Linked DNA regions of Homo sapiens. The protein of the gene in region 2 purifies or fractionates together with the protein of the main gene of each other region. This does not show direct contact. Each region holds a gene or a part of one and is shown on either strand. Other genes may lie near its edges.

What was found. Proteins that work in one complex are often made in the same cells at the same time.
Region 1: the proteins of NADK (region 2) and TESK2 purify together in Homo sapiens (affinity purification with mass spectrometry, with the first as the bait; one large-scale study listed by BioGRID). This does not show direct contact.
Region 3: the proteins of NADK (region 2) and RASAL2 purify together in Homo sapiens (affinity purification with mass spectrometry, with the first as the bait; one large-scale study listed by BioGRID). This does not show direct contact.
Region 4: the proteins of NADK (region 2) and KIF13B purify together in Homo sapiens (affinity purification with mass spectrometry, with the first as the bait; one large-scale study listed by BioGRID). This does not show direct contact.

The regions. Positions count from the first base shown.
Region 1 is NC_000001.11:45,481,164-45,484,663, reverse strand, and holds part of TESK2 (dual specificity testis-specific protein kinase 2), read left to right. Parts: intron 1-3,500. UniProt on the Homo sapiens protein: Dual specificity protein kinase activity catalyzing autophosphorylation and phosphorylation of exogenous substrates on both serine/threonine and tyrosine residues. Phosphorylates cofilin at 'Ser-3'. May play an important role in spermatogenesis.
Region 2 is NC_000001.11:1,768,471-1,771,970, reverse strand, and holds part of NADK (NAD kinase), read left to right. Parts: intron 1-3,500.
Region 3 is NC_000001.11:178,440,104-178,443,603, forward strand, and holds part of RASAL2 (ras GTPase-activating protein nGAP), read left to right. Parts: intron 1-1,445; coding exon 1,446-1,544; intron 1,545-2,571; coding exon 2,572-3,126; intron 3,127-3,500. UniProt on the Homo sapiens protein: Inhibitory regulator of the Ras-cyclic AMP pathway.
Region 4 is NC_000008.11:29,141,071-29,144,570, forward strand, and holds part of KIF13B (kinesin-like protein KIF13B), read right to left. Parts: intron 1,234-3,500; coding exon 1,087-1,233; intron 1-1,086. UniProt on the Homo sapiens protein: Involved in reorganization of the cortical cytoskeleton. Regulates axon formation by promoting the formation of extra axons. May be functionally important for the intracellular trafficking of MAGUKs and associated protein complexes.

The DNA of each region.
Region 1 (3,500 bases), about 44 Mb from region 2:
GCCTTCCGGGTTGAAGCGATTCTCCAGCCTCAGCCTCCTGAGTAGCTGAGTAGCCGTGCACCACCACGCCCGGCTAATTTTTTAATTTTTAGTAGACACGTGGTTTCACCGTGTTGGCCAGGCTAGACTTGAACTCCTGACCTCAAGTGATCTGCCCGCCTCAGCCTCCCAAAGTGCTGGGATTACAGGCATGAGCCACCGCGTTCGGCCTCTTTTAGACTTTCTTTAGGCGAATGCTTACAAATAAGAATATATGGCTGGGCGTGGTGGCTCACGCCTGTAACTCCAGCACTTTGGGCGGCAGAGGCCGGTGGATCACCTGAGGTCAGGAGTTTGAGACCAGCCTGGCCAACATGGTGAAACCCCGTCTCTACTAAAAATACAAAAATTAGCCAGGCATGGTGGCAGGTGCCTGTAATCTCAGTTACTCGGGAGGCCGAGGTAGGAGAATCACTTGAACCAGGAAGGCGCAGGTTGCAGTGAGCCGAGATCGCGCCGCTGTACTCCAGCTTAGGCGACAAGAGGGAGACTCCATCTCAAAAAAAAAAAAAAAAAAAAAGAAGAATTAAAAATGAAATGATACAGTTGGCCCTTGAACAAAACAGGGGTTGGGAAGCCAACCCCTGTGCGGTAGAAAATCCAAGTATAATTTTTTTTTTTTTTAAGACAGAATCTCTTGCTGTTGCGCAGGTTGGAGTGCAGTAGCAGGATCATGGCTCGATGTAGACTCAACTTTGTAGACTCAAGTGATCCTCCCTTTTTAGCCTCCTGAATGAGTAGCTGGGACCACAGGTGCATGCCACCATGCCTGGCTAATTTTTTTTTTTTTGTAGAGACAGGGCCTCCCTATGTTGCCTAGGCTGGTCTCAAACTCCTGGGCATCAACACTCCTCCCATTTCAGCCTCCGGAAGTGCTGGAATTACTGGCATGAGCCACTGTGCCTTGGCCCCAAATATAATTTTTGACCCCCCCTCCGCCGCCCCCTCGCGGCAAAACTTAACTACTGCTGTTGGTGATGGTGTTGCATAACCTGGCTTCATTAATTTCCTTTTTTTTTTTTTCTTTTTTCTGAGACGGAGTTTCGTTCTTGTTGCCCAGGCTGTAGTGCAATGGCACAGCTCACTGCAACCTCTGCCTGCCGGGTTCAAGCAGTTCTCCCTCTTCAGCCTCCCGAGTAGCTGGGTTTACAGGTGTGCGCCACCATGCCCAACTAATTTTTTTGTATTTTTAGTAGAGACAGGGTTTCACCATGTTGGCCAGGCTGGTCTTGAACTCTTGACCTCAGGCCATCCGCCTGCCTCGGCCTCCCAAAGTGCTGGGATTACAGGTGTGAGCCACCACGCCCGGCTCCTCTTTTTTGTTGTTGTTGTTTTTTTTTTTTTGAGACGAAGTCTCTCTCTATTGTCCAGGCTGGAGTGCAGTGGTGTGATCTCAGCTCATTGCAAGCTCCACCTCCTGGGTTCACGCCATTCTCCTGCCTCAGCCTCCTGAGTAGCTGGGATTACAGGTACCCGCTACCATGCCCGGCTAATTTTTTTTGTATTTTTAGTAGAGATGGGGTTTCGCCGTGTTAGCCAGGATGGTCTTGATCTCCTGACCTTGTGATCTGCCCGCCTCAGCCTCCCAAAGTGCTGAGATTACAGGCGTCAGCTACTGCGCCCGGACATTTTTTTTTTTTTTTTGAATTGGAGTTTTGTTCTTGTCACCCAGACTGGAGTGCAATGGCGCCATCTCAGCTCACTGCAACCTCCACCTCCTGGGTTCAAGCAATTCTCCTGCCTCAGCCTCCCGAGTAGCTGGGATTACAGGGGCCTGCCACCACGCCCAGCTAATTTTTGTATATTTAGTAGAGACAGGGTTTCACCATGTTAGCCAGGCTGGTTTCAAATTCCTGACCTCAGGTGATCCACCCCCCTTGGCCTCCCAGGGTGCCTGGATTACAGGTGTGAGCAACCACGCCTGGCCCCAGGTATAATTTTTGACTTCCCGCAAAACTTAACTGCTGTTGCTGTTGGCATTGCATAGCCTGGCTTCATGAATTTACTTTTTTTTTTTTTTTTTTAATGGCTGACCACTACTGCTGCAGATCTCAATCTGTGGTACATATCAAGCAATTCAAATTTTTATTTATTTATTTTTTTGAGACAGGGGCAGTTGCCCAGGCTGGAGTGCAGTGGTCTGATCATAGCTCACTATGGCCTCGACCTCCCAGGCTCAAGCCATCCTCCCATCTCAGTCTCCTGAGTAGCTGGGACTACAGGTGTGTGCCACCACTCCAGGATAAGTTTTTATTTTTTTGTAGAGGCATGGTCTCACTATGTTACCGTGGCTGGTCTCAAACTCCTGGGCTCAAGCAATCCTCCTGCCTTCAGCCTCCCAAAGTCCTGAGATCACAAGTGTGAGCCACCATGCCTGGCCAACTTTTTCGTATAATGTCATGACCTTTCTGTTTCTTGAGAGCACTTCCAGCATTAGTGGCACTTGGTATGGATCTCATGGTGTTATTCAGGGTTTACAGTATTGCACTAAGCATGATGAAAAATATGCACGAACCTTGAGAGATCACTTTTTACTGTGACACTTTTTACTGGAGGAAGGAACTGCTCACGTGGAGACGATTAGCATCACACAGCATTTTAGGGGCTACTCACAACACTTGCTCACTGAAACAGCAACAGGAGGTGGCTCCAGAATTATTACAGAAGTACAGTATATACTATAGTCAATTTTATGCAGTTGTGATTTAATACTGCACCTTTCCATTTGTTTACTGTTGACTATGAATGGCACCATGTATGGTTTGTATTTGTGTGCATAAGTTTTTATACATTTTAACTTTTTATAATAGATTTGTATATATCTTATAGTAAATAATAAAATAGACTAGTATCTACATATATTTTCTGCATTCATGGCATACCTAACTTTTTCTTAATTTTTTTGATGTTTCTAGGCTAGGTGTTTTGTTTCTGAGTTTTTTTCAAAATGTTATACATCTCCAAAAATTTAAAAAATATATTTGTTGAAAAAAATCTGTATGTAATACAGCTTTGCCTGTAGTTTCAGCTACTCCAGAGGCTGATGTGGGAGGATTACTCGAGGCCTGGAGTTTGAGGCCATAGTGTGCTATGATCACACTTGTGAATAACTACAGCACATGAGTGGACCTGTACAGTTCAAACCCGTGTTGTTCAAGGGTCAATTGTATAGTCCTGTTTTTCCCACTTTTCATGTACAGTTGCCCATGGTTCCCCACTGTTCTGCACTTCCCACCCCCAATCTTGCTTATTTTTTTTTTGAGACGGAGTGTTGCTCTGTCGCCCAGGCTGGAGTGCAGTGGCGCAATCTTGGCTCACTGCAAACTCCGCCTCCTGGGTTCACGCCATTCTCCTGCCTCAGCCTCCCGAGTAGCTGGGACTACAGGCGCCTGCTACCACGCCTGGCTAATTTTTTGTATTTTTAGTGGAGATGGGGTTTCACCGTATTAGCCAGGATGGTC
Region 2 (3,500 bases):
CCAGGTGTGGTGGTGCATGCCTGTAATCCCAGCTACTTGGGAGGCTGAAGTGGGAGGATTGCTTGAGCCTGGAAGGTTGAGGCTGCAGTGAGCTGAGATCACACCACTGTACTCCAGCCTGGGCAACAGTGGGAGATCCTGTCTCACAAAAAGACAAAAAAAAAAAAATTTCCAGTGCTTTCTTCTAAAAAGTTTCATAGTTTTAGTCCTCACATTTAGGTCTATAATCCATTCTGAGTTAATATTTGTATGTAGTATGAGGAAGTGGTTGGGCTTCGTTCTTTTAGACGTGGCTGTCCAGTTGTTCAGAACTATTAGGTGAAAAGATGATCCTCCTCATGTTGAATCACCTCAGCACCTGTCAAAAATTCATGGACTGCATGTGTGTGAGGGTCTGTGGCGTCTACCTTTGGGCTGGCCGTCCTGTTTCCTTGATGTGTATGTCCGTCTTGATGCTGCCACGCTGTCTGGTTCCCGTAGTTTTTCAACAAGTCATGAACTTAGCCCTTCGCGTTTGTTCTTGTTCAAAGTTTTTTCAGCTGGTCTAGATACTTTACATTTTCATGTGAATTTTATCAGCTTGTCCTTTCCTTTAGAGAAGCCTGCTTGGCTTTTGATGGTTGTGTTTGGGTAACATTTGCAGATCAATTTGATGAGAACTAAGATCTCAATATTGAGTCCTCCAATCCATGAACATGGTATGTCTCTCCATTTATTTAGGTTTCCTTTCATCTCTGTCAGCAATATTTTGTAGTTTTCAGTGTGCAGTTCTGACATGTCTTTTGCCAAATATATCCCCACATATTTTATATTTTTAATGCTATTATAGATCATATATATGTATATATATTTTAATAAGATATATATTTTTAATAATATATGTGTGTGTGTGTGTATATATATATATATATATATTTTTTTTTTTTTTATAAGATGAAATCTCACTCTTGTTACCAAGGCTGCAGTGCAATCTCGGCTTACTGCAACCTCCACCTCTCAGGTTCAAGTGATTCTCCTGCCTCAGCCTCCCAAATAGCTGGGATTACAGGCATGTGCTACCATGCCTGCCTAATTTTTTATATTTAGTAGAGACAGGGTTTCACCATGTTGGTCAGGCTAGTCACAAACTCCTGACCTCAGGTGATCCCCACCCACCTCGGCCTCCCAGTGTTGGGATTACAGGCGTGAGCCACCACACCCAGCTGTAAATTATATTGTTGTTATTATTATTATTATTTTGAGACAGAGTCTCTCTCTGTCACCCAGGCTGGGGTGCAGTGGTGCGATCTCCGCTCACTGCAAGCTCTGCCTCCTGGGTTCACACCATTCTCCTGCCTCAGCCTCTTGAGTAGCTGGGACTACAGGCACCCGCCACCATGCCCGGCTAATTTTTTGTATTTTTAGTAGAGACAGAGTTTCACCATGTTAGCCAGGATGGTCTCAATTTCCTGTTGTCTATTGCTAGTATATAGAAATACAGGCGATTTTTGTGTATTGAATTTGCCTTCTGAAACCTTGCTAATAAACTCACTTATTTGTTTTTCTACATAGAAATGTCATGTCATCTGCAAGTACAACTTCACTTGTTCCTTTTCTTATTTTGTTTAACAGACCTACATTTCATGCCAAACCTTTTCTGTCACTGTACCTTTTATTTTTTTCTTATGTTATTGCACTGGCTGTGGCCTCTAGTATAGTCCTCAATAGGAGTAGTTATACCAGACATGTTTTTGTAGGTTCTGGTTTTCATTGAATTTTTCATGGTTTTTTTTTCTTTTTTTCTTTTTTCTTTTTATTGAGGCAGAGTCTCACTCTGTCACCCAGGCTGGAGTGAGTGGTGCGATCTCGGCTCACTGCACCCTCCACCTCATAGGTTCCAGCAATTCTCCTGTTCTCCTTCCTCAGCCTCCTGCATAGCTGGAGTTACAGGTGCCCACCACCACTCCAGGCTAATTTTTTTGTTTTTGTTTTTGTTTTTGTTTTTGTTTTTGTTTTTGTTTTGAGTGCTGGGATTACAGGCAAGAGCCACTGCTCCCAGCCCTTTTTTTGTATTTTTAGTAGAGACAGGGTTTCACTGTGTTGGTCAGGCTGGTCTCAAACTCCTGACCTCAAATGATCCACCCACCTCGGCTTCCCAAAATGCTGGGATTACAGGTGTGAGCCACCGTGTCTGGCCGAATTTTTCATGTATTTGAATAAAACACTGGTATGTCTTTTTTCTTTTTTTTTTTTTCTTTTCATTTGAGATGGAGTCTTGCTCTGTCGCCCAGGTTAGAGTGCAGTGGCACGATCTCAGCTCACTGCAGCCTCTGCCTCCCAGGTTCAAGGAATTCTCATGCCTCACCCTCTCCAGCAGCTGGAATTACAGGCACGCGCCACCACACGCGGCTAGTTTGTTTTTTGTTTTTTGTTTTTTTTTTGAGACGGAGTCTCGCTCTGTTGCCCAAGCTGGAGTGCCATGGCGCGATATCGGCTCGCTGCAAGCACCGCCTCCTGGGTTCACGCCATTCTCCTGCCTCAGCCTCCTGAGTAGCTGGGAGTGTAGGCGCCCACCACCACGCCCGGCTAATTGTTTTTTGTATTTTTAGTAGAGACGGGGTTTCGCCATGTTGGCCAGGCTGGTCACAAACATCTGACCTCAGGTGATCTGCCCGCTTCGGCCTTCCAAAGTGCTGGGATTACTGGCGTGAACCACCGCACCCAGCCTGTACTTTTAGTCGAGACAGGGTTTCATCATGTTGGCCAGGCTGGTCTTGAACTCCTGGCCTGAAGTGATCCGCCCACCTTGGTCTCCCAAAGCACTGGGATTACAGGCGTGAGCCACCACATCCCGCCTGGTATGTCTTAAGCTAGGGAGATATTGACCCACTGGGACAGTACTGTCAATTCTCGCTAAACATTAGAATCTTCTGGGGAGCTCTTTTAAAGTGCCGGTGCCTGGGCTGTACCTTCAGGTTCTGATCATTCAGTCTGGAGGGCACGTAGGAATTGGTGTTGTTTGAAGCTCCTAAGGTGATTGTAGAATGCAGCCAGAGAGAGAACCAGCTTTTGGGTATTCAGAGAACCCGTTGGCTTTGACCGTAGCATAGGGCCCACAGTCTTGTGTCCATAGTTCCTGAACTTTCCTTCTGCCCACCTTGCCATCATCTCACATATTTTAGTTGTTTTATTTAGGCTGCTGTAACAAAGTGCCACAGGCATGGGGCAGGGGGCGGGTAAACAACAAAAATGTTTGTTCTCAGAGCTCTGGAGGCCAAGAGTCCAAGGTCAGGGTCCCAGCTAATTTGGTTCATCGTAAAGACTCTCTTTCTCACTGTAATGGCCATCTTCTCTGTGTCCCCACATGGCTTTACTTTTGTGCCCAGTGAGGGTGGGAACAGAGGTGAGGAGAGAGCTCTCTGGTGTTCTGTTTTGTTTTTGAGACAGGGTCTCTATTGCCTAGGCTGGAGTGCAACAGCACAATCACAGTTCACTGCAAAACCTCAAACTCCTGGGCTCAT
Region 3 (3,500 bases), about 180 Mb from region 2:
TGAATAAACAAAATTGCCAACTATCATAAGGTAATTTCTCCCTTCCAAATATGTACTACTAGCCAGTTACAAGTAAAATTCAAAAACTATATATACATGTATTTATACATACATAGAATTATTAGGGCTGAGATTTGATTAATTAACAAGAGCTTACTAAGTGACTACAGATGAGTCCTATACTAGATGTTGTAGAAGTCAAAAGATGTTTGTTTGGTTCCTCTTCTTATGGACCAGCACTGTCCAAAAGAAATATAGTACAATCTGCATGCATATCCAAAATATTATCATTTCAACATGTTCACTATCAGAGAAATTGTTTCCTTTTTTTTTAAAACTAAGTCTTCAAAATCTGATGTGTGTTTACACTTGCAGCACATCTCAATCTGGAATAGCCATGTGAGGCTAGTAGCTGCTGTATTGGACAGAGCATATAATCTGATCGGATTTATTAGGTTGTGACCAGAGATTGAGTTAATAAGTGAGCAGACTTCAGCAATTTGGGCAAGACATTTATTGGTGTTCTTTTTTATAAAAATCAGTTGAACTTTCTTGTATTTGCGGAACTCAGTTCATTAGGCTGTATATCAAGCCCAGAGTTAGGTGCTAAGTATATAACAACATATTTCATTTTTAAAGGACTGTGTTAATAGTGGTCAGGCTAACCTAATAAATGACTAGAAATCAACAGGCTGGTTGCGTAGTGGAGGAAAAATGGGTTCCAAAGATAGTAATTCAATATTAGTAACTCTTCAATTTCATTTAGCACCCTTCTATAATATAGTGAGGACAGTCTCAAGAAATCTGATAAGCTGTTTCAGAAACTCTCATCCTTTATTACCTATTTTTTACTAACTCAAAGTTGAACATATTTATTTGCAGGTAATTTAAGTTATTGCCTAAAAGGCCTTTAATTTTGATTTTTCTGAACCATAGGCCAGTTTTAATTTCCTTGGATGAATTTAAAATGGCCTTTGTTCTCATACCTGGAAATGGATGTGGATGCTACCTAAGCAAAAAGCAGATGTAGATGTAGATATAAGTATCGGAAAACTAGCAAAGATCATCTTAGTTTCTTATGGTATGATTTAGGTTCATAGCATATGTCTAACTCACAGCTTTGCATTCCTTTTGGCCTTGTCTACTTTCAATAAAATTGGACTCTTAGTACATTTTCGTCAGAGGATGAGACTAACAATAACACTAAATTAGTATATTAATTTTTTAGTATTGGTAAGGATGTCGCTCATTAGGTTATTTTTGTAACCACAGCATGAGTAGTTTGGGATCTGAGACCATGTTTTTCTTATCTATCCATCCATCCATCCTAATTCCAGGACATTTCGACCTTATCATTTAAGAGTTAGAGGTATGCTGTGAACCCTAATGACAGAGCCCTGAAATCCAGTGTTTTCTTTTTCTTATGTCTAATTTTTATGTTGAAGGTTACCTACTTAAGTGGAAGTAAATGCTTCAGCTGTAATTCTGCTTCTGAGAGAGACAAGTGGATGGAAAACCTTCGCAGGACAGTTCAACCTAATAAGGTAATAGTAGCTTCAAGTATCTAAAAAATGTATAACTTTGTAAGCAGTTAATTGATAGAAGGTAAGTGTGGTAGTAATACCTTAATTTGTCTATAGCTTGAGAGTTTTAAAGCACATTTATATGTTATGCCATTTGTAGTAAGCCCTTATTATATCACCATAAAGAAGTATCTGAGACTGGGTAATTTATCAAGAAAAGCAGTTTAATTGGCTCACGGTTCTGCAGGCTTTACAGGAAGCATGGTGCTGTTATCTGCTCAGCCTCTAGTAAGGCCTCAGGAAACTTACAGTCATGGCAGAAGGCAGAAGGGGAGCAGGCACATCACATGGTGAAAGCAGGAGCAAGCGAGAGAGAGAGTGTGTGTGTGAGTGACTTGGGGGGAAGGTGCCACACACTTTTAAACCACCAGATCTCACAGGAACTCAGTATCAGGAAGATGGCACCAAGGCATGAGGAATCTGCCCCCATGATCCAAACACCTCCCACCAGGCCCCACCTCTAGCACTGGGGATTACAATTCAACATAAAATTTGGGCAGGGACAACTATCCAAACTGTATTATCATTTTAAGCTAAAAGCAGTCTTACTGCAGATATTATTGCCATGGTTCTACCAGCATGGATAAAAGGACTCTGAAAAGTTAGGTGAATTGGCCATGTCAGAAGCTAGTACATGATAGAAGAGGGACTAGAATACGAGCTTCTTAACAGCTTATCTCTTTTATTTGCAGATATTAGACTGGTTATATGAAAACTTACCGTTACAAAATGATATTTTCTTAACCCAAGTAAATAAAATAGAATGAACTATATATAATATATATAATGAACTATATATAATTCTTCAAGATTCTAATGCATGCTTGTTTAGAGCTTGCTGTTAACCTAAGCAATGAGATAGCAATCCCTTTCATTATTTGTTGACTCCCCTTAATAGAGTACCTAATGAACATTGCCAACTTAAGAAAAAAATGTTTTTTTTTCTGCAATGTCAGCTCTGAAATTCAGCTTTGTTGCCTCTTTATAGGACAATTGCAGGCGAGCTGAAAATGTTCTTCGTTTATGGATCATTGAAGCCAAGGACCTTGCCCCTAAAAAGAAATATTTCTGCGAACTGTGCCTTGATGATACCCTCTTTGCTCGTACAACCAGCAAGACCAAAGCAGACAATATTTTCTGGGGCGAACATTTTGAATTCTTCAGCCTTCCACCTCTTCATAGTATCACAGTTCACATTTACAAGGATGTGGAAAAAAAGAAAAAAAAGGACAAGAATAATTATGTAGGGCTAGTCAACATCCCCACTGCCAGTGTGACTGGTCGCCAATTTGTAGAAAAGTGGTATCCAGTGAGTACACCTACACCCAACAAAGGAAAGACAGGAGGACCTTCTATTCGGATTAAATCACGTTTCCAAACTATCACCATTCTGCCTATGGAGCAATACAAAGAATTTGCAGAATTTGTCACCAGCAACTACACCATGCTGTGTTCTGTCCTTGAGCCAGTAATTAGTGTGAGAAATAAAGAGGAGTTGGCTTGTGCCTTAGTGCACATTCTTCAAAGTACTGGCAGAGCCAAGGTAAGTGGAAAAGGGGGATTGCAGTACCTGAAGTCTCTTCCCTACCTTTCATAAACCAAGATATGGATATTGTAGAAATCCAAATTAGAGAAATGTGCTTTACTATTGGTCAAAACAAGAAGAATTAAGAAGAAAACCTATTAGATCCAGAAAAGATGAAGATTATAAAACTAAACAAGTAAAATGGAGAGACCAGCAAATATTTAAAGCCAATTTGCATGAAACATAGATAACACAGCCAGCTCTTTCTTGTCTGACAAAATAAATGGTAGGATTGGCACGATAACCCTACAGCATGTTCAAGGTTCCTTATCTTTAATTTAGTTCTAGAGTGTTGTATGGTGGTTTTCTTCCTCACTGTATTTTATTTAAGT
Region 4 (3,500 bases), on a different chromosome or scaffold from region 2:
CACCTATAATCCCAGCACTTTGGGAGGCCAAGGCAGGCGGGTCACCTGAGGTCAAGAGTTTGAGACCAGCCTGCCCAACATGGTGAAATCCCGTCTCTAATAAAAATACAAAAATTAGCCAGGTGTGGTGGTGGGCGCCTGTAATCCCAGCTACTCGGGAGGCTGAGGCAGGAAAATCACTTGAACCCAGGAGGCAGAGGAGGCAGTGAGCCAAGATCGTGCCACTGCACTCCAGCCTGGATGACAGAGCAAGACTCCATCTAAAAAAAAAAAAAGGTGAGCCCCTATGGGAGTGGCTCTTTCATTATTTATTACTGTTGTTTTATTTCTAAGTTGAAATAGGAGAGGGGTACCAAAGAGACAAACATGTTTTAAGCAAAAACATCACCTAACTATAAGAAACATTTTTATTGATAACAATCTGGAAAAATCATTTTTACAAAACAAAAGGCAAAGGAAGTAAACAACTCTATGCGGAAACAGGTCTAACGGTAATGAAAATATGTTCAGACATACATAATATGCACTTCTATTTTAAATACGTATGAGTACATGGCTGATCTAAGTAAGAAAACCTGCAAGTTAAGGACAGAGTACCAATGTATAGATTTATGGCATTTATGTTATGATCAAAACTTCTTCAAAAATGCTCCTTGGAGTGTAAATATTAAGATACCACCGATGTTCAACTTACAAAACATATATTGTAGGTTTATTATCTGCAAGGTTAAACGGGTTGAGCAATGGGAGGAGAGACAAATAATGAGGCCTGGCCTCTGTCCTAAAGAGGTTCCCAGAGAGCACAGGAGACAGACACCCGCACACCAACAGAAGTCAGAATGGAAAGTGGAGAATTCTGCTAGAAATCTAAAAGACAGAAATGAGAAGAAAAAAGAAGATACCAGAAAGAGAGATTATTAAAATTGTTAATTTGCTAAACAATTTAGGGGATTAAAATAAACCTTACTCCAGAAATAGGATTATAATTTTGGAAAAAGAACAATTTTCCCCTGAAATGGGTAGACTCATTCCAGCTTGGCTCCTTCCATAATTACCAATTAAGTGATTTTCTCTTAAATAACTTACTGGGTTATCTTCTTCACACTCTTTCCACTCCTGATAAAGGTCTCTCATATCCAACAGCCTGTTGTCCAGTTTTTCCAAAGACCAAATCTGCTTTCCTTTTCCTTTTCTTCTCACCTGGATTGCAGGCTCACTAAGAAGAGAGCCTCGCTGCAAAGAGAGTAAGAATGACCGTGAGAAACACACAGGCAGCGGGGAAGTCAAAGCTGACAATTCCACCCCCATCAGTCAAATGTCATTACACCAAAACTCAAATGGCAATCATCCTTTAATCTGTTGATTACAAAGCCTCCAAAAAGTCTTACAAGCTATAACATAATACCTTCCTACCCAAGTGCAATCAAAACCTATTTATAAACTTCACTTTAAGTATAAACTTACATTAAAAATTTTTTGGGGGGAGTTGCTGGGCATGGTGGTTCACGCCTGTAATCCCAGCACTTTGGGAGGCCAAGGCAGGTGGATAACTTGAGGTCAGGAGTTCAAGACCAGCCTGGCCAACATGGTGAAACCCCTCTCTACTAAAAATACAAAAATTAGCCGGGTGTGGTGGCACGTGCCTGTAATGCCAGCTACTTGGGAGGCTGAAGCACAAGAATTGCTTGAACCCAGGAGGCAGAGGTTGCAGTGAGCTGAAGTCTTGCCACTGCACTCCAGCCTAGGTGACAGTATGAGACTCTCAAAAATAAATAAATATATACATGTGTGTGTGTGTAAAGAGACAGCATCTCACTCTGTCACCCAGGCTGGAGTGCAGTGGCACGTCATAGCTCACTGCAGCCTCGAACTCCTGGGCTCCAGTGATACTCCTGCCTCAGCCTCCCAAGTAGTTAGGACCACAGGTGCATGCCAATACACCCAGCTAATTTTGTCTGTTTTGCATAGAGACAGGGTCTTGCTATATGGCCAAGGCTGGTTTGGAACTCCTGGCCTCAAGTGATCCCCCTGCTTCAGCCTCCCAAAGCACAGGGATTATAGGCATGAGCCACCACATTTAAATTTTGACTGTAGTTGGAAATGATTTTAAGTTTAAAACCCAAAAGACCACATTTAACAGCAAGTTGAAATAAAAGTATTTTATTCAGGCCACCATATGACCACAACGTTATCAATGGGGAGAGAGGGAAAGTTTGCTGCGGTGTATGGGGAAGAAACGTCCCTCTCAGAGGCTGAATTTTGTTTTATTGTAATGGATGGCATCTTCAGGGGGTATAAAACATGAAACACTTAAAAGAGTAAACTGAAAAGTCCCCGATTCACCCACGTGGAAGCAATTAATGATACCAGTTTCCAAATATGCATTGTTTGGGTTTCTTATTAAGATCATACAGAACTAGATGGAAGCGGTGCTCACACCACATTATTACCGTGCCAAATGCCACTGAGTTATTCACTTTAAAATAGTAATGTTTGGCCAGGTGTGGTGGCTCACGCCTGTAATCCCAGCACTTTGGGAGGCCAAGGCAGGCAGATCACAAGGTCAGGAGTTTGAGACCAGCCTGGCCAATATGGTGAAACCCCGTCTCTACTAAAAATACAAAAATTAGCCAGGCATGGTGGTGGGCGCCTGTAGTCCCAGCTATTCAGGAGGCTGAGGCAGAAGAATCGCTTGAACCCAAGAGGAGGTTGCAGTGAGCCGAGATCGCGCCACTGCACTCCAGCCTGGGCAACAAAGCAAGACTCTGTCTCAAAAAAAATAATAATAATAAAATTAAAAAAAAGTAATGTTCTATTATGCAAGTATCACACCTCCCCCCCAAAAAAAGTATGCTCTGAAGTTTTTCCAGCTTATAAGAGCAATGTGGATTTTTTTCAGAGTAGAACTTGAGCAATGTGTTTTTAATGTAGAAAAAATTTTAGAACTTTTAAAAAACCACAAAGTTAAAAAAAAAAAAGCCCCTATACATTTCCCCGAGGGAGACATATCTACTGGTTATCTAATCAATTTAGGTTTACTGGCTTAATTTTTCAAATGTTCTACTTAAAACTGAAGAGAACTTTGAAATACATTGATGTTTCATTAACATCTTGCCTACAATCATTTTCTAAGAAAAAAATTTAAATAATAAAACAAACATTTGAGAATTCTTACGGTCAAAATGCGTGTGTGTGTTTTTTTTTAATTGAGACAGAGTCTCTTTCTGTCGCCCAGGCTGGGGTGCAGTGGCCCAATCTCGGCTCACTGCAACCTCCGCCTGGGTTCAAGTGATTCTCCTGCCTCAGCCCCCCAAGCAGCTGGGATTACAGGCGCCTGCCACCACGCCTGGCTGATTTTTGTATTTTTAATAGAGATGGGGTTTCATCATATTGGCCAGGCTGGTCTCGAACTCCTGACCTCAGGTGATCCGCCCACCTTGTCCTCCCAAAGTGCTGGGATTACAGGCATGAGCCACCATGCCCGGCCATCTTACAGTCAA